Linked DNA regions of Homo sapiens: all the other regions are linked to region 2. The links come from fine-mapping of genetic effects on gene expression. A gene starts in region 2. Each other region holds a variant in brackets. All regions are shown on one strand. Distances are between the middles of the regions.

Evidence for each region.
Region 1: its variant is fine-mapped to the expression of CTNS in minor salivary gland (GTEx, PIP above 0.99).
Region 3: its variant is fine-mapped to the expression of CTNS in whole blood (TOPMed, PIP above 0.99). The same link has a PIP of 0.9 or more in blood mononuclear cells.
Region 4: its variant is fine-mapped to the expression of CTNS in whole blood (TOPMed, PIP above 0.99).

The regions. Positions count from the first base shown.
Region 1 is chr17:2,755,017-2,759,489 of GRCh38, reverse strand. It overlaps a transcript of RAP1GAP2 not described here. Among named protein-coding and RNA genes, the nearest start is that of CCDC92B, 7.6 kb to the right of the region's middle. RefSeq lists a silencer at 4,193-4,402. The variant C/T (reference allele first, on the strand shown) is at 2,134.
Region 2 is chr17:3,634,064-3,638,536 of GRCh38, reverse strand. It overlaps CTNS (cystinosin, lysosomal cystine transporter), which reads right to left and starts at 1,777. Exons shown (of 12, transcript NM_004937.3): 1 at 1,706-1,777; 2 at 1,221-1,430. It overlaps SHPK (sedoheptulokinase), which reads left to right and starts at 2,287. Exons shown (of 7, transcript NM_013276.4): 1 at 2,287-2,485. The coding sequence starts at 2,318. It overlaps LOC105371493 (a long non-coding RNA gene), which reads left to right. Exons shown (of 6, transcript XR_007065579.1): 6 at 1-40. RefSeq lists silencers at 1,412-1,501, 2,512-2,571 and enhancers at 1,782-2,031, 3,870-4,473.
Region 3 is chr17:3,656,469-3,660,893 of GRCh38, reverse strand. It overlaps CTNS (cystinosin, lysosomal cystine transporter), which reads right to left. Exons shown (of 12, transcript NM_004937.3): 8 at 4,308-4,407; 9 at 4,099-4,218; 10 at 2,719-2,889; 11 at 919-1,036; 12 at 1-658. The coding sequence ends at 525. Among named protein-coding and RNA genes, the nearest start is that of TAX1BP3, 9.9 kb to the left of the region's middle. The variant C/T (reference allele first, on the strand shown) is at 2,371.
Region 4 is chr17:3,681,705-3,686,177 of GRCh38, reverse strand. P2RX5 (purinergic receptor P2X 5) reads left to right here. Exons shown (of 12, transcript NM_002561.4): 10 at 4,200-4,282. It overlaps P2RX5-TAX1BP3 (P2RX5-TAX1BP3 readthrough (NMD candidate)), which reads left to right. Exons shown (of 15, transcript NR_037928.1): 10 at 4,200-4,282. Among named protein-coding and RNA genes, the nearest start is that of P2RX5, 12 kb to the left of the region's middle. The variant T/G (reference allele first, on the strand shown) is at 1,832.

The DNA of each region.
Region 1 (4,473 bases), 880 kb after region 2:
GACAAGAGTGAGACTCTGTCTCAAAAAATAAAATACAAAAAATTAGCTGGGCGTGGTGGCACGTGCCTGTAGTCCCAGTTACTCAGGGGGCTGAGGTGGAAGGATCACCTGAGCCTAGCGGGTAGAGGCTACAGTGAGCTGTGATTGAGCCACTGCACTCTATCCTGGGTGACAGAGCAAGATTCTGTCTCAAAAAATAAAAAATAATAAAGTATCCAACCACTATCTTTGCACAAGTATGCACAGATATAGATTCAAGAATGTTCTTTGCCACAATGCTTGTAATATCAAAATGTTCAAAATACTTGAAAGATTGTCAGTAGAGGTTAGGTAAAGGAATGATGACTCAAGGCTGGGCACAGTGGCTCATGCCTGTAGCCCCAGCACTTTGGGAGGCCAAGATGGGAGGATCCCTTGAGCCCAGGAGTTTGAGACCAGCCTGGACAATATAGCAAGACCCCATCTCTGCAAAAAAAAAGATGTAAAAGTTAGCCAGACGTGGTGGCTCTCGATGGTGGACCTCAACTATGGCCCCAGCTACATGGGAAGCTGATGGAGGAGGATCACTCAGGCCTGGGAAGTCGAGGCTGCAGTGAGCTGTGATCGCCACTGCACTCCAGCCTCAGTGGCGTTGTTTGAGCTCCTGAATCTAGCTGTGCCTGAAACATGAAGAGCTCCTAGAGTTTTTTCAGTTCAGTGAGTCTATAAATTCCCTTTTTCTTTGAAGCTAGTTTGAGTCGATTTCTACAATTTACAAGTGAAAGAATCCTGATTCATTAAAAAGGAAAGTAAACTGACTCAGTGGGAAGTCCTAGATCCAGGGGCCACAGCTGGAGCATGGCTGGCCATGGCTGGAGCATGGCATGGATTGAGAGGGTATCTCGGCCTCAGACGTGCACCCTGCCAGGCTGCCTAACCACTCAAGTCACATCTTCAGGACCTTCTCAGAAAGATGAGCTTTTATCTGGGGTGAGGGGTGACCCCAAACCCAATTACGGCACTAAAAATGATTCATGTGGCTGGGTGCAGTGGCTCACACTTGTAATCCCAGCACTTTGGGAGGCTGAGGCAGGCGGATCACAAAGTCAGAGATCAAGACCAGCCTGGCCAACATGGTGAAACCCTCTCTCTACTAAAATAGAAAAAATTAGCCAGGCGTGGTGGTGCGCACCTGTAGTCCCAGGTACTCGGGAGGCTGAGGCAGGGGAATCACTTGAACCCAGGAGGCACAGGTTGCAGTAAGCCAAGATCACACCACTGCACTCCAGCCTGGGCAACAGAGGTAGACTTCATCTTAAAAAAAAAAAAGGGGGGGGGGCGTGGCCAGGCGTGGTGGCTCACGCCTGTAATCCCAGCACTTTGAGAGGCCAAGGCGGGCGGATCATGAGGTCAGGAGATCGACACCATCCGGGCTAACATGGTGAAACCCCGTCTCTACTAAAAATACAAAAAATTAGCCTGGCGTGGTGGCGGGCACCTGTAGTCCCAGCTACTCAGGAGGCTGAGGCAGGAGAATGGTGTGAACCCGGCAGGCGGAGCTTGCAGTGAGCCGAGATCGCGCCACTCCACTCCAGCTTGGGTGACAGTGTGAGACTCCATCTCAAAAAAAAAAAAAATTCAGGCATCATCAGGTCCAGCCCAAGAAACAACCCCAGCAGACAGTGCCAGGGGCAAGAGTTGGGAGGATGAGTCAAAACAGGCATCCAAGCTCTACGCCTTAAATCTCTTCCTATTTCTTCTGTGAAGTGAGGGAACTGATCTGGAAGGTCTGGGGTGCTGGGGTGGTCCTACTTTCTTTATACCTCTGCCTCCCTCTGTTCCAGTTTTAGTCCTTGTGGCAGCAAGGTGGTCATCAGTGGCCCAGATCAACACTCTATGGAGACAGAGCTTCCCTGTCTCAGTGGTTCCAGCCCAGTTCCCATGATGTCATGTCACTGACCTGACCTAGGTCACACACCCATACTTGAGCCAGGCGCTGTGGTCGGGCGATGGAATGCTATGTCATTTTGAGGAAAGGGACACTAACTGCCCACCTCCCCTGAGGTAATTCAAAAGTGGATTACCTCTGCCAGGGGCACGGTGGCTCATGCCTGTAATCCCAGCACTTTGGGAGGCTGAAGTGGGTAGATCGCT[C/T]GAGCCCAGGAGTTCGAGACTAGCTATGGACAATATGGTGAAATCCCACCTCTACAAAAAAAATACAAAAATTAGCTGGGCGTGATGGCCCATGCCTGCAGTCCCAGCTACTTGGGAGGCTGAGGTGGGAGGATCACTTGAGCCTGGGAGGTGGAGGCTGCAGTGAGCCGAGATTGCACCACTGCACTCCAGCCTGGGCAACAGAGTGAGACCCTATCTCAAAAAAAAGAATTAAATAAAGGAGATTAATTCTACTTTTATCTGGTTTCTCTATTGGAGCTTCACTTGAAGAGTGATTCCACTGCTAACTAATATACTTGGAAACCCATTGGCACCTCCTGCTCTGACACTGTGGGATTTTCGGACAATGTGAACTTGGATGTGTGGCCACGCTGGGTGGAACCATCCAGGAAATATGCAAAACAGAGGAAAAGTTAAGCTCCTGAGCAAGACCTGGTTCAAACCTTGCCTCTACCATGCGCTTGTTGGGTGACCTTGAATCCTTTTCCCTCTCTGACCCTCGGCTTCCTCATCTTTAGTAAAATGGAGGTGCTAATACCTTCCTCTCAGTGTGTGCCTGAATCCTGACTACTCCAGAGCCACGGGAGGTGCTGGGGAAGCCCACGTTGCTGTTATTGATGACATTATTGTTCATTGTATGCAGGCTACAGAATGTACCTTCAGAGGTGCTCTCTGACCCTGCTGTGTGTGGGATGATTTGGGATGGGGAGGAGTCCCAGGCCGACATTCTCTTTTGAATCTTGGAGTCCTCCGAGGTCCGGGGAGGGCTGTGCAGGCTGCCCTAAGCTCCAAGTGCCGCCAAGCAGAGGTCAGGCCCCTGGCTGAAGCCGTCCTGAACATTGGGACACCTGGAACCCTGGGACGTGGGTTCGGGGGCCCAGATCAGGTGACTCGACAGCGCTGCGTCTGAAACCCTCTGAGCTTGCAGTCCGGTAACCTGACACCGCAGGCTCTGACTTCCCAGCGGGCCAGGACTGCGGAGGGGGAAAGGGCGACTGCCCCGCTACACGGGGACCCCTCCCCTGCCCTGGTCTCCTAGGCCCCCTTCTCTGCGCCCTGTCCCCAGAGTGCACACCCCCAGGGGCTCCTGTGTTTCGGGGCTAAAGCACCCCTTTCCACGCAGGGGTTGGGGGCTGTGGGTGGTGCCTTCTCGGGGCCCAAGTCCAGAGCCCTGCCCCGGGTGGCAGAAGGAACGGAGGGAGGCACAAATGGGAAACCTGAAGGGGGCGAAGGGGAAGGCGGAAGCCCCGTGCGAGCGTGAAAGGTGAAGTGCAGGGAAAGGGCGCCCCCGCGGGAGGGGGACGGGGTTCCCCCAAAGCCTGACGGCTCGCACAGGGTCCCCGTCGCCCATCTCTTTGGAGAGCCGCAGAGACCCGGCGCGGGGACGCGGGGTGGTGGGGACCGGAGGGGGTGGTGGGGACCAGGCAGCCGGCGCCCCTCCGCCCACCCGGGCCCCGCAGCCTCAGCCCGGGACGAAACTTTGGGCCCGCGCCCCGCTGCTTCCCGCGCCGGCCGGGCCTCGGGGTTCGCTCCCGCATTAGGCCCCGCGCCGCCCGGCGCCCACTCACCAGCGCACCAGCTGCCAGCGCTTCTCCCCCGGCGCCCGGCGGCCCGCCATGCCTCGCCCGGCCGCTCCCTGCCCTCCGCGGGCCGCACGGTGGAGGAGGCTCGGCTGCCGCAGGCGGGTGTCCGGGGCGCGCTCGCGGGGAGGGCGCGGGGAGGGCGCGGGGAGGGCGCGGGGAGGGCGCGGCGCTCAGACCCCGCCCCTGGAGGCGGCTGGAGCCGGGTCAGCGCCGGCCCCGCAGAACGGGCGGGACAGCGGCCTCTCCCCGTCCGGGTCTCTCCCCGCCGCGCCGAGGAGCCGGGTTTCTGGGGAGCACTGGGCGGAGTCTGGTTCCCCGAGTCCTACTGACGCGCGGAGAGACCAGGCGGCCCATTGCCTCGTTCTGTGCCTTACTCCCTTAGGAAACCCGTTCTACCCAGGAAGTGATGCCTAAAGAAGTAAACTACTCGGCCGGGCGCGGTGGCTCACGCCTGTAATCCCAGCGCTTTGGGAGGCGGAGGTGGGCGGATCACGAGGTCAAGACGATCGAGACCAACCTGGCCAACATGGTGAAACCCCGTCTCTACTAAAAATAGAAAACTTAGCGGGGCGTGGTGGCGCCTGCCTGTAATCCCAGCTACTCGGGAGGCTGAGGCAGGAGAATCGCTTGAACCGGGGAGGCGGAGGTTGCAGTGAGCAGAGGTCGCGCCATTGCACTCCAGCCTGGGCAACAGGGCAAGACTGTCTCAAAAAAAAAAAAAAAAAAAAAAAAAGAA
Region 2 (4,473 bases):
GCTGAGCGCAGTGGCTCGTGTGTGTAATTCCAGCACTTTGGGAGGCCGAGGCAGTTGGATCACTTGAAGTCAGGAGTTCGAGACCAGCCTGGCCAACATGGTGAATCCCCGTCTCTACTAAAAATACAAAAATTAGCCAGGCGTGGTGGCATGTGCCTGTAGTCCCAGCTACTCAGGAGGCTGAGGCAGGAGAATCGCTTGAACCCGGGAGGTGGAGGTTGCAGTGAGCCGAGATTGCACCATTGCACTCCAGCCTGAGTGATAAGAGTGAAACTCCGTCTCAAATTAAAAAAAAAAAACAAAAAAAAAACCAGATTGATAATTACATACAACTAGTGGCTTGTGAAAGCTACAAGATAGAAATGAAGTATCTCCTGACAATGGGCTCTGTCTGGCGTGCCCTTCCTATGTAAGTTCTAACTATTGTCCAGGCCTCATTCAGATGTCACATGTTTCAAGAAGGCTCCTCACCCATTCAGTCCCTTCCCAGGAGCAACCTGGGGCTAGGGGTCTAGTGTGGCAGCTCCTGTCTGCCAGGTATGAGTTGGTCCTGTCCTCTGTTCTACGACCTGGAACTCCCTGGGTCTCCTGCTTTTGGAGAGGGTACACAAATAGTGGCAAGGGCTGTGTGCACTGGAGACAGGCTTGACCTATTTATTACTTATGCGACCTTGTGGTGCCAAACAAGGAGGTGGTAACTACCTCACAGGACTTAAATGAGGAGATGTAAAGCACGCATTGTCAAGTGGGACTAAAATTGGCTGGGGGTAGGCTGGGCGCGGTGGCTCACGCCTGTCATCCCAGCACTTTGGGAGGCCGAGGTGAGCGCATCACCTGAGGTCAGGAGTTCGAGACCAGCCTGGCCAACATGGTGAATCCCCATCTCTACTAAAAATACAAAAATTAGCTGGGCATGGTGGCTCAGGCCTGTAGTCCCAGCTACTCGGAAGGCTGAGGTAGGAGAATCGCTTGAACCCCGGAGGCGGAGGTTGCAGTGAGCCGAGATCGCGCCACTGCACTCCAGCCTGGGTGACAGAGGCTGCAGACTCCATCTCAAAAAAAAAAAAAAAATTGGCTTGGGGTGGTAGTGAAGAAATCTAGCTATTACAATGGTTTGTGGCCACAGAAACAAATACACAGCGTACTAGTGGTATTAAATTTTATGGGAAGGGGGTAGGTAGGAATAACGAGGTTGAGAAACAAGGATATAAAGTGGTTACCTCTGTTGCTTAGGGCGCCTAGCGAGCTCTCACAAAACACAGTAATCCTCAATGTTACTGGAAGAGGCAGAGCTCAGGAGTCCTCCCTTCGCCCAGTGTGAAAACCCGGAGGGGAGGATGGGGTCTCGTGCTGCTCAGTCCCCCGGAGCCCCGCACTCCGCACGTCAACCGGCGCTCTCGCAAAGGTTCTCTCAGCGTCTCCAAAGCAATCTGCAAATTCCCCAACCGAGACCCAGGCGGCAACTGAGCAGAAGGTAAGGGGCTGGGAACGGCACCCACCCCGGCAGCCCGCTGCCCCTGCCTCGGCTGACCACCGCTCGGGCCCTTCCACCCGGGGGTTGTCCCGTGTCGCGAGGCCAGCACTGGTGGCGGGGAAAGGAGCCCGCCGCGGCTGAGGGCGCTGGACCCCCGGCAGGCTGCCCCGCTGACCTGCTGTGCCTCAAGGGGTCCGCCTGGGAAACAGGGGAGGCCGCGTCCGCTCTCACCTGAGCGCCCCCAGGCTCGAGGAACCGCCCTCACGGGACGCATGAGCCTCGCCAGGTGCCGGTCAGGAATGCACCGCGTTCCCCTGCCCGGCTAGACTTTGGGAGAGGCGGGTCCGCTGTCACCTGACCTCCGCCACCTGACTCGTGGGGCCGGATCTCGGCGAGATGAGCTCTGGGAGTTGTAGTTTCCGCGCGTCTTAGACGGACAGAGCGCAGCTGGGTCGGGCCGGGGCGCAGAGATCGGGGCTCCGGCGTGAGGGAAGATGAGGTCCGCTGCCAGGGACACAGAGACTCTTGGAGCCGCCAGCGCCTCCCGGCTCCTTTCGTGAGCGAAGCTCAGACCGCCCTCCATTGGGCGGAAATCAGAGCCCGTGGGGCGGGGCCCCCTTTAGGTCCCGCCTTCCGCCGCCTCTCCGCCTATAGCCGGGGCCCGCCGAGAGGTTGCGTGGAAGCTCGCCTTCCCCGGCCAGTGGGAAGACGAGAAGCCTCCATGTTGGGTGTGGCTGAAAGATTGGCAGGCGACTCCCCGCCCCTGCCCCGCCCCCCTGGGCGAAGAGCGCGGACTTGTGGGGCCGCTGGCTGCAGACTGGAGCTGCGCGGGTCAGGGAGATAATGGCTGCGCGGCCGATCACCCTCGGCATTGACCTGGGCACCACATCTGTGAAGGCAGCTCTGCTGAGGGCCGCGCCCGACGACCCATCCGGGTTCGCAGTGCTGGCGAGCTGTGCCCGTGCTGCGCGGGCAGAGGCGGCGGTCGAGAGCGCGGTGGCCGGGCCCCAGGTGAGTTGGACCCCCGGGGCCGCGCCGCCTCCAGGAGCCTCCTGACCACCCTTTTCCACCCCAGGAGGCCTCCCTGACAGCCCTTCCCGCAATGAAGTCTCTATTCCAGCTTGTCCCCAGCTTCTCCAGGGGCCCGTCTGCCTGCAGCAGCTGTGCTCATGATCCCTTAGGTCTGGTCCCAGAATCCTTCCCACCTGCTGGGACCGATTCCCCCCCGCCCCCTCCCCGACTCTCTGGCTTCTTCTGGGGGCCTTGCGCTTGGCGCTGGATCCCTGTGCTCTCTGTCCCCTGACCTTGGAGGAACTGATCTCTTGTGTGTATGGAATGACCACAGGCCTCCCTTTCACTCTTGCTGCTCTCCGCTCCTCACACCTGCCCTGTGACCTCAAGTTCAGGATTCAGTTTGTTGCCCAGGGCAGAGTCTGGGTTTTCCTCCGGAAATCAGATGTCAAATCAGGCCTAACTGGCTCCTGGCTCATTCCACAGAAGCAGAATGCGGACCAAGAAACCTTTGGTCAGCCGGGCGCGGTGGCTCACGCCTGTAATCCCAGCGCTTTGGGAGGCCGAGGCGGGCGGATCACGAGGTCAGGAGATCGAGACCATCCTGGCTAACACGGTGAAACCCCGTCTGTACTAAAAATACAAAAAATTAGCGGGGCGTGGTGGCGGGCGCCTGTAGTCCCAGCTACTCGGGAGGCTGAGGCAGGAGAATGGCGCGAACCCGGGAGGCGGAGCTTGCAGTGAGTCGAGATCGCTCCGTTGCACTCCAGCCTGGGTGACAGAGCGAGACTCCTTCCCTTCCTTCCCTTCCTTCCTTCCTTCCTTCCTTCCTTCCTTCCTTCCTTCCTTCCTTCCTTCATTCTTTCCTTTCTTTCTCTTTCTTACCAAGTCTCGCTCTGTTGCCCAGGCTGGAGTACAGTGGCGTGATCTGGGCTCACTGCAACCTCCGCCAACTGGATTCAAGTGATTCTCCTGCTTCAGCCTCCCGAGTAGCTGGGACTACAGGTGTGAGCCACCGCGCCCGGCTACTTTTTGTATTTTTAGTAGAGACAGGGTTTCGCCATGTTCGCCAGACTGGTCTTGAACTCCTGACCTCAAGTGATCTGCCCACTTCAGCCTCCCAAAGTGCTAGGATTACAGTTGTGAGTCACTGCGCCTGGCCCAGCTTTGTTTTTCACAAGCTCTTGCCACATACATGGACACGGTTGTTTAGGGTTCAGAGCCCATTTGGCTCAGAAGCATTTCTGAGGATAGGGATTTCAGGAGCACTTTGTATCTACATAGAAGCTTTCAAGATTAGTTTGGTTGGGACATTAGGGCATATTAAAAGGATTCTTACTTAAAGGACTATGAATTGGAGGCAAAGTTGGCTCTGACCCTGGTGGGGTGAGCAGGAGAGCTGGCATTAGGGGAGAGTAGGCTCAGAAAGTGCCAGTTTCTCCTGAAATAGAGCACTTCTTTTTTTTTTTTTTTTTTTTTTGAGACAGGGTCTCGCTCTGTCACCCAGGCTGGAGTGCAGTGGTGCAATCTCTGCTCACTGAAACCTCTGCCTCCCGGGTTCAAGTGATTTTCGTGCCTCAGTTTCCCGAGTAGCTGGGATTACAGGTGTGCGCCACCATGCTTGGAGAATTTTTTTGTATTTTTGGTAGAGATGGGGTTTCACCATGTTGGCAAGGCTGGTCTCAAACTCCTGACCTCAACTGATCTGCCTGCCTCGGTTTCCCAAAGTGCTGGGATTACAGGTGTGAGCCACCGCACCCAGCATGGCCACTTTTTTTTTTTTTTTAATTGATCACTCTTGGGTGTTTCTCGCAGAGGGGGATTTGGCAGGGTCATAGGACAATAGTGGAGGGAAGGACAGCAGATAAACAAGTGAACAAAGGTCTCTGGTTTTCCTAGGCAGAGGACCCTGCGGCCTTCCGCAGTGTTTGTGTCCCTGGGTACTTGAGATTAGGGAGTGGTGATGACTCTTAACGGGCATGCTGCCT
Region 3 (4,425 bases), 22 kb before region 2:
CAGGAAAGTGGCCTTCAGAGAAAGAGCCCCATGGCCTAACCCCAAAGTCCTAGCCCGTCCACCAGCACCTCTGAGTTCACTGGCCACGGCACCGGGCTGCTTGATCTCTGGGAATGCAGCGGTGGCAGCAAAGTGCCCTTGGCTCACCCGGCTGCAAGGTCAGCCCTTCAAGCTGCTTGCAGAAACGCTGGTAGTTTGGGGCAAGGCCTTCGGCTGCAAGCTTGGTGCCCAGTCCTGCCTGAGACGGCTGCCAGAGCCTGTGCGCGCTGCCTGAAGCCTTAAAGAAAAGAGATGGCGGTGTCAAGGCGACGGTGCCACGTGCCTGGCCGGGGAGGCCCAGGAGGGGCCCGGACGAAGGCAGGCTATTGAATGGCCTCTGGCCCCAGGAGCAGAGTGGTCTCCTCTGTCCGCACACTGAGCCAGCCCTGTGTGCCAGGGCCCAACCGCTTCTCCGGCCTTCGCTGGGTGAGGCCTTCCCCAGCAGGGCACGAGGCCAGAGGCTGGGTACACTGGGTCCCTGGGTGCTAGTTCAGCTGGTCATACCCCGGTCTCTTTCTGTACAAACAGAAGTGCTGGATGAAGAAGACGACGTCGAAGACGATGGAGAAGACCCCGAGTCCAAACTTGGTTGGGTCTCCGAAGATCAGCGTCCACTGGTCTGTTAGCAGCCGGGGGACAGAAGCTGGTGTTAGGTTGGCAGCTCCTGAGGCAGCTGGAGCTTGTGGGGTGGTGGGCGGTGGGGGTCCCAGAAAACCACAAAGCCTCCAGCTACGAAGGCCCCTAGGTGGGTCTCTCCTTGGGGGCTGGATTGGCTTGGATCCCAGGTGGGGGTGGAGCCCTGGCTGGAAGGTCCCGGGAAGGCTGGCCCCGCCCGATGCCCCAGCCGCAGGGTGGCCAGCAGCCCGCTGGCTGACTCACCGTTGTTGTAGGACTGGAGGAACATCTGCAGGAGGCTGAAGCTGCCCCCGGTGAAGTCCAGGAGCACGTTGCCAATGCTCCAGCCCTCAGTGCTTTTGTAGTAAAAGTTCATGTAGGCCTGGGCCAGACAGACGGACAGACAGACGGAGGGCGGTGAGGGCTGGGCGGCTGCCTCATGCGCCTCGTGACTGCCCCTCCAAACAAAAGCGGTTCTCATTCCTCCCACTGGGGCCTTGGCTCCAAGGACACGGTGACCTTTGGGCTATGACAGGCCTCAGCCAAGGAACAGTTTGGGTGGTCCTGGGGGTAGGCGTCTCATCTGCATGTACAGCAAGCAAAGGCCCCGCACCCCCCACACCTCACAGCTCCAGCAGAGGCGGGGCCGATGCGGCCTTCCCCGTCTCCTCCACATCCCTGGGGCCAAGGCCCTGTGCTAGTTTCCCTGTAGCTATGATTCTTCTTCTCACCTCCAGGCAAGGCTGTCCCCAAACTCAGCCTGGACTTCATGTGCTTAGGGACTGGTGGGAGTGGGACTTCTGGTTTGGAATCCTGGCTCCATCACCGGAGCCTGCTGTCTTGGGCAAGTGACAGTTCTCCTAGCCTTGGTTTCCCCGTCTGTAGAGCGGGGTTAACGCCCCCCACAGGCCTGGCCGGGGCTTCCTGGGTCTGGTTGGGGGGGCGGGTCTGCGGGGATGCGCCCCAGTCTGACTGCCTGTGCCCCACGTCCTCCCATGCTGCAGAGCCCTGTGGGTCCTCTGACTGCTGTGACCTTTCCTTCCCCCCGTGAGGCAGGTCCTGGCCTCTCTGGTGGCCTCCCAGTGAGCCTCTAGTCAGTCCCTGTCTGTGTCCCGGCTCACCCTCTTCCGTACTTGCTGCTGCCCCTCCAGCAGTTCCAAACGTCTCCAACCTGGGCTCCTCCATCCCCGGTTTCTTGGCCCCAATCCCTCCCACCCTCAGGGACTGGGGCCCACTTCCCCAAACCTTCCCCTCCTCGGAAGCCCCCCCCAGCTCCCGGGACCTGACCCCAGCTTCCCAGCTTCAACATGCTCAACACTGTTCAACCAGCCACATCCCCTCACTGCCGCCCCGTGTCCCGCCCCAGCCTCTGTGCAGGCTGGCCTGGCCCGGAACGCCCGGGCTCCTTGGCCACAGAACTTAGTCCTGCTCAGCCTAAGAGTCCAGTCCTGCCTCCCAGTCAGAACGCTGGCCCTCCTGAGCTCACAGAACACGAGGCTCCCAGGGCTGGGGGCACTGGAACAAGGCTTCTCCCTTTGGGAATGGGGTGAGTTAAATGAGGCCCTAGGTCCCCGGGTGCAGCAACTTCAGCCCTGACCCTGTCCCAGGCTGTGGGGCAAGATGTGCTGGACCCTGAGTCCCCGGATCTGAAGAGGACCGGCTATGCTCATAGGACGGGCTGAGCTCTGCGCGGGAAGGGGCTCCCTCCTCCCACCT[C/T]ACCTCTCCAGAGTGTCCTGCTGTGGAAATGGAGGCAGTGGTGAGGGCAGAGCCAAAGGCATCAGGAAAGGCTGGGGTGTGGAGAAGGGGAACCACCCGCACACCTGATGCTTAGGGGAGCGTGGGGTCCAAGGGGCCTCCGCTAGCGATCTCCTGTGATTCCAGCCCCGGGGGAAGAGCGGCAGGCTGGCCTCCCCACCGCCCCGCTCCCGCTGGGCTCCCGGGCTCCCTGTGGCTTTCCGTCCTGTTTCCTCACGCCGGCAGGAGCTGCCCCACCGGAGCAGGGCCTGGGCCATGTAGCTCTCACCTCTCCTGCCACCGGCCATGTGAACAGGGCCCTGGAGGTACCTGTGGAAAATACTTGACCAGCGTGACTGCGAGCTTGATGTAGGAGAAGCAGAAGAGAAACTGCAGCCACGTGGTCACTCCCACTGCAGCCACGATCATGGTGACAAATGCGAAGAGCCACGCGAGCACCAGGAAGCCGATGGCAGGCCAGGACACGCGCTGGCCACCGCGCTGGGGGCGAGAGGAGGGCAGAGATGTGGACCCACACAGAGGCCACGCCGGGGCTGAGCAAGGACGGCCCCGGATAGGGCGGGCTTAGAGAGGGGCACGGAGGCTGGACCCTGGCCTTGAAGGAGCCCCTGCAAGGTGGGGGCTGCACTGGGGTTGTGGCAGGGGAACATGTGGACCACAGAAAGCATCACACCTGGGCTGGTGCTGGACATCCCCAGCACCAACCACACCTTCTCATCGCCAGGGCCTCCTGTTCAGGCTGCTTGGACTCTCAAGCTCTGTCTGCTTTGTTCCTACTTGGCAGAACTGGGCGCCTCTCAGCACTCACTTGGAGACGTGGGGTCGGAACTCTGGTGGCCTGGTGCCTCTCCCAGCCAGGTACTGACTCGTCCCACGACCCGGCAGCAGCCTGAGGATCTCAGGAATCTGTCCCCTCGCCTTGCCTTTCCCTGAACACGGGCCCAATGTGGGCCACCTTCACTCTCGCTTCACACCAAAAGCTAAGAAAGCCTAGAAGGTTCATACGGGTGGGGCCAGACAGCCCCCAGCTGGCCTTACAGTGTGAAGGGAACTCCCTGAGAGAAGGGAAAGCAAAGCTGTCATATCAGGGGTCCCCGGACCCAGCCTTGGTGGGGCCCTGCCCTGCCGACACCCATGGCTTCCAGCAACAAAGCTGAATACAGGTGTCTCCGCCTGCACGCGGGCCCCCTCCTGGCACCCTGAAGCCCAGCTGCACCCGCCTGCTCAGGGTCCCTCTCAAATGCCCCTTGGCCTCTGTGACCTGACCCCTCCAGGAGCCCACCCTGGCCCCTCCCCTCCTCCATAGGAACTTCACTCATCCTTGGAGCCCAACCAAGCGTCTTCCTCTGCCCTCCTCCCTTCTGTGCCCTCCTCCCTCCTCCCTTCTGTGCCCTCCTCCCTCCTCCCTGGCAGGGCTCAGGGCCTTGCACTCCTCCATGAGCTGTCTGTGCTCCTCTGTGCACGGCTCTCAGCCTGAGTCCAGGCACTGCCTCTCCCTGAGTCCCTCACCCCAGACTTGGGGGGCTCTGAGGGCCTGGACTCATGGGTGTCTTCTATGCCCAGCACAGGACCTGGATGAATGAACACACACCCTTCCTTTCCCAGGCTCTGCCGTGTCTTCTGTCAAAGGTGAGGTGGGGTGGCGGGTGTTGGCTGGGGTGGCCTGTGGGGGGCCAGGGCTGGTCTCACCTCATACAGGCAGCACTGCACGATGATGATCAGCGTGAGGACAACCGCGTGCAGGCTGAAGAAGACGTCGTTGCTGTTCACGGGGTTCACTCCGTTGGGGTATTTGAGGAGAAACTGCTCCTGTTTGGTGGGTGGGAGAAGCTGGGTGGTGAGGGGCAGCCGGGCCACCACGCCATGTGGGCAGAGATGTAGGGCAGGCAAGGCCGTACCTTGATGTAGGGCACCCAGAGGAGGCCGATGTTGAATACACTGTAGGCCACGAAGCCCGTCAGGTTCAGAGCCACGAAGTCGAAGCTCAGACCAATGACACTGCAGGGGGTGGAGGGA
Region 4 (4,473 bases), 48 kb before region 2:
GGACGTTGGGAGGGTCCCTGGGGGCCCCGCTGTGCGTTCTCCTGTTCTGAGGCTGGGCGGGGGGCGGGGGACGTTGGGAGGGTCCCTGGGGGCCCCGCTGTGCGTTCTCCTGTTCTGAGGCTGGGCGGGGGGCGGGGGACGTTGGGAGGGTCCCTGGGGGCCCCGCTGTGCGTTCTCCTGTTCTCAGGCTGGGAGGGGGACGTTGGGAGGGTCCCTGGGGGCCCCGCTGTGTGTTCTCCTGTTCTCAGGCTGGGCGGGGGGCGGGGGACGTTGGGAGGGTCCCTGGGGGCCCCGCTGTGCGTTCTCCTGTTCTGAGGCTGGGCGGGGGGGCGGGGGACGTTGGGAGGGTCCCTGGGGGCCCCGCTGTGTGTTCTCCTGTTCTCAGGCTGGGCGGGGGGCGGGGGACGTTGGGAGGGTCCCTGGGGGCCCCGCTGTGCGTTCTCCTGTTCTCAGGCTGGGAGGGGGACGTTGGGAGGGTCCCTGGGGGCCCCGCTGTGCGTTCTCCTGTTCTCAGGCTGGGAGGGGGACGCTGGGAGGGTCCCTGGGGGCCCCGCTGTCCAACCTGCCTCGCTCACTGGCCTTGTCTCTATCTTCCAGGCAGGGAAGTTCAGCATCATTCCCACCATCATCAACGTGGGCTCTGGGGTGGCGCTCATGGGTGCTGGGAGTACCTCCCCTCCCTCCCCGCGTCCCACCCTCTCCCCGGCGGCCGCACTGGCAGGGAGGGGGAGGCTGCTGTTCAGGAGGACCGTGTCCCAGTGCCCCCAGAAAGAACCAGAGCTGGCAAGATCAGAATAGGCGTGGGAAAAGAGGGCTTTCTGGGATTTCACGCTCTGCCAGCTGTCCTCAGGTAGCAGTGACAGCCCGAGTCTCTTTCCAGAGCCAGGGAGGCATGTGCTGGTAGCTCTGCAGCTGTGCATGGGTTTAGGTCAGTCCCCAGCCGAGGCGTGGCTGGGATATCCCTGGGATCCCAGGTGAGTCCCTGAACTTCTAAAGTCTCTATCTCTACTTCTGCTAAAAGAGGGCAGGATTAGGCCGGGCGCAGTGACTCACACCTGTAATCCCAGTGCTTTGGGAGGGTGAGGTGGCGGATCACCTGAGGTTGTGAGTTCGAGACCAGCCTGACCAACATGGAGAAACCCTGCCTCTACTAAAAATACAAAAATTAGCCAGGTGTGGTGGCACATGCTTGTAATCCCAGCTGCTCAGGAGGCTGAGGCAGGAGAATCGCTTGAACCCGGGAGGAGGAGGTTGCGGTGAGCCCAGATCACACAACTGCACCCCAGCCTGGACAACAAGAGCAAAACTCCATCTCCAAAAAAAAAAAAAAAAAAAAAAAAAAGGGGGCAGGATTAGGCTGCAGACAGTTTCTTAGCCTGGGTGCTGCTGACTTTTTGGGTGGGAGAATTCTGTGTTGTGGTCTTACACACATCCTTGGACATGCCCTTAAACATTCCACAATGCACAGAGGGCTGTGCTGGGTGTCGTAGGAGGTTTTTGTTTGTTTTCTATTTCATATTTCACACTTTTCTGGTCGATACTATATTTTCCCAGACCCTGAGGATGTTGATTTCAGAGACAGGGTTTTTGCTCTGTTGCCCAGGCTGGAGTGCAGTGGCATGATCATGGCTCACTGCAGTCTTGAACTCCTGGGCTCAAGCGATCCTCCCACCTCAGCCTCCCCACTAGCCAGGGCTGCAGGTGCACCACCACCTGTGGCTAATTTTTAAATTTTTTGTAGAAATGGGGTCTCACTATGTTGGCCAGGCTGATCTTGAACCCCTGGGCTCAGGCAATCCTCCGGCATTGGCCTCCCCAAGTGCTGGGATTA[T/G]GGGCGTGAGCCACCGCGCCCAGCCCATTGTAGGATGTTTAAGAGCATTCCCGGTTTCTACCCACTAGATGTTAGGGGCACCCTCCCCTGCAGTTGTGATGGAGCAAAATCCCAGCTGGCTGAGAACCACCCGACTGAAAGGCTGAGAGGCAGGGAAGGCAGCCCTGTGACTCTTCCTTAGAGGTGGCCCTTCAGTGGGGCCGGGAGCGGCTCACAGGGGAGGAGACACAGGGACTGAGGGCAGGGAAAGGCGTCCTGAGTCTACACTGCCCCGTGGTCCTTCTGGAGTTTTTGAGAGCCATGGGAGTGGTCAGTGCCCATCCCGGCAGGTCCCTTTCCCAGGTTTCTGGCAGCCTCTTCCCTCATTCCTCTCCCTGTGCACACAAGACAGCCCCACTGGAGGAGTCCATTGGGACCCAGGGGTGACTTTTGTTAAAACCTGGAAAATTGTGTCCCATACCAGGACCACGTTCCTGGGAGGGGGTCAAGAAAAGTGAGCTCCACATGGATCCCTACCTGCAGACAGTCACTGGGAGGGTCCTGGATGTTTGCGCCTGTTACTTTCTTACAGAAGGCCCACCTTCAGCTATCACTTTTCTTTTTTTTTTTTTTTTTTTGAGACGGAGTCTCACTCTGTCGCCCAGGCTGGAGTGCAATGGCATGATCTTGGCTCACTGCAGCCTCTGCCTCCCAGGCTCAAGCAATTCTTCTGCCTCAGCCTCCTGAGTAGCTGGGATTACAGGCGTGCGCCACCGCGCCCGGTTAATTTTCGTATTTTTGTAGAGACAGGGTTTCACCATGTTGGCCAGGCTGGTCTCCAACTCCTGACCTCAGGTGATCCGCCCACCTCGGCCTCCCAGTGCTGGGATCACAGGCGTGAGCCACTGCGCCCAGCCCATTCATCACTTTCTTGTGATGTGGGTAAAATCAGAGCACCCTCTGGGGACAGACCTGTGAACTGGAAGTAATGGCGCAGGAAGAGGTGGTGGTCAAGGTTAGGTTTGGGGTTGGTCTCTGGGGAGCAGCGAATTGGTAAGCAACATTTTTGGCATCTAGGGGATGGATGTGCAGCACCCAGGGTCAGGGGACCAAGATTCCTTGTTGGCCCCTCCACCAACCCTTCCCACCTCCACTCTCCTCTATCATTCAGGCCCCAACCCTGCCCTGTGCTGTGGGTGGAGTCTCCCTCTGCTGGAGGAGAGGGGCAATTGCATCGCTCTGGTCCGTAGGGCACGTTTTGGGTGTGAGGGGCTGAGCTGGGGTCGTCCACCTCATCATCTTCCTTTTTTGTTTGTTTTTGCTTTTGTTTTTGTCTCTTTTGAGATGGAGTTTTGCTCTTGTTGCCCAGGCTGGAGTGCAGTGGTGCGATCTTGGCTCACTGCAACCTCCACCTCCCGAGTTCAGGCGATTTTCCTGCCTCAGCGTCCTGAGTAGCTGGGATTACAGACACCCGCCACCACGCCCAGCTAATTTTTGTATTTTTTAGTAGAGACAGGGTTTCACCATGTTGGCCAGGCTGGTCTCGAACTCCTGGCCTCAGGTGATCCGCCTGACTCGGCTTCCCAAAGTGCTGGGATTACAGGCGTGAGCCACTGCACCTGGCACCCATCATCTTTCTTTGACTAGCACCATAGCGTCCTTGTTGGTTAGAACCCTTCCAACCTATCTCACACTGACTACCACAGGGATCTTTCTAAATGCCAAAATTCGGGCTGTGGTGCCTCCGCCTCACCTAAAGGATGAGGACCAATGCCTCGGAAACATTCTAAGAAGCCTAACAGGCCAGTCCCCATCCCCTTCTCCAGAAGCGCATCTCCCTCTTCCCGCACAGGCCCTGCGGCATTTCCCAGATGTGACAGGCTTGTTCCTCCCTCCGTAATGTCCTTCCACCTCTTTGTCTTGTATAAACTCCTCTTTAGTCCTTAAGGACTGAATAGGGACCCTCCCCAGGCTGAGTGAAGTCCTATGTGGGTCGTCATCGACACGCCTGTCTCCTGCACCAGAGGGAGAGTCCCCAGGAGGTCTCTCTTGTCCAGATCCTCTCCGTACTTCGGTGCAGACACTGGCACGTGCTGGGTGCCCAGCAAATGTGTTGAAGGAACGATTGGATGGGGTCCGGGTGGTGCGGGGTCGGGGAGTGCCTGGCCTGTGGGATCGGGGGAGCTCCAGTCCAGCTTGAGCTCCACCATGGACCAGCTCTGTGGTGTCGGACAAGGGTGCCCCTTGCTGAGCCCAGTTTCCTCATCTGTTAAATGGGGACAGTGATGCCACCTTTAGGGGCTGTTGCAGGATGGAAGGGGCAAAGTGCCCTAAATGAACAGTGCTCTCAGAGGTCTAGGATTCTGAATCAGGAACCCCTGTTTTGCAGGGTGCTTTCTTCTGCGACCTGGTACTCATCTACCTCATCAAAAAGAGAGAGTTTTACCGTGACAAGAAGTACGAGGAAGTGAGGTCAGTTCCGCTTCCAGGCCGGCGGCCCGAGGGCAGCCCTGTGGAGCACCCCCGTGGCTTCGAGCCTTTGCCCTGATGTGATATTGATGGCTGGGGTGGGAGGCAGGGGCTGGAGGGCCCGGGGAGGAGAAGTGTTCTGAGTACATGCTCTACAGAACCGGATTCGGCCTCGGCAGCAGTGGGAGGAGAGG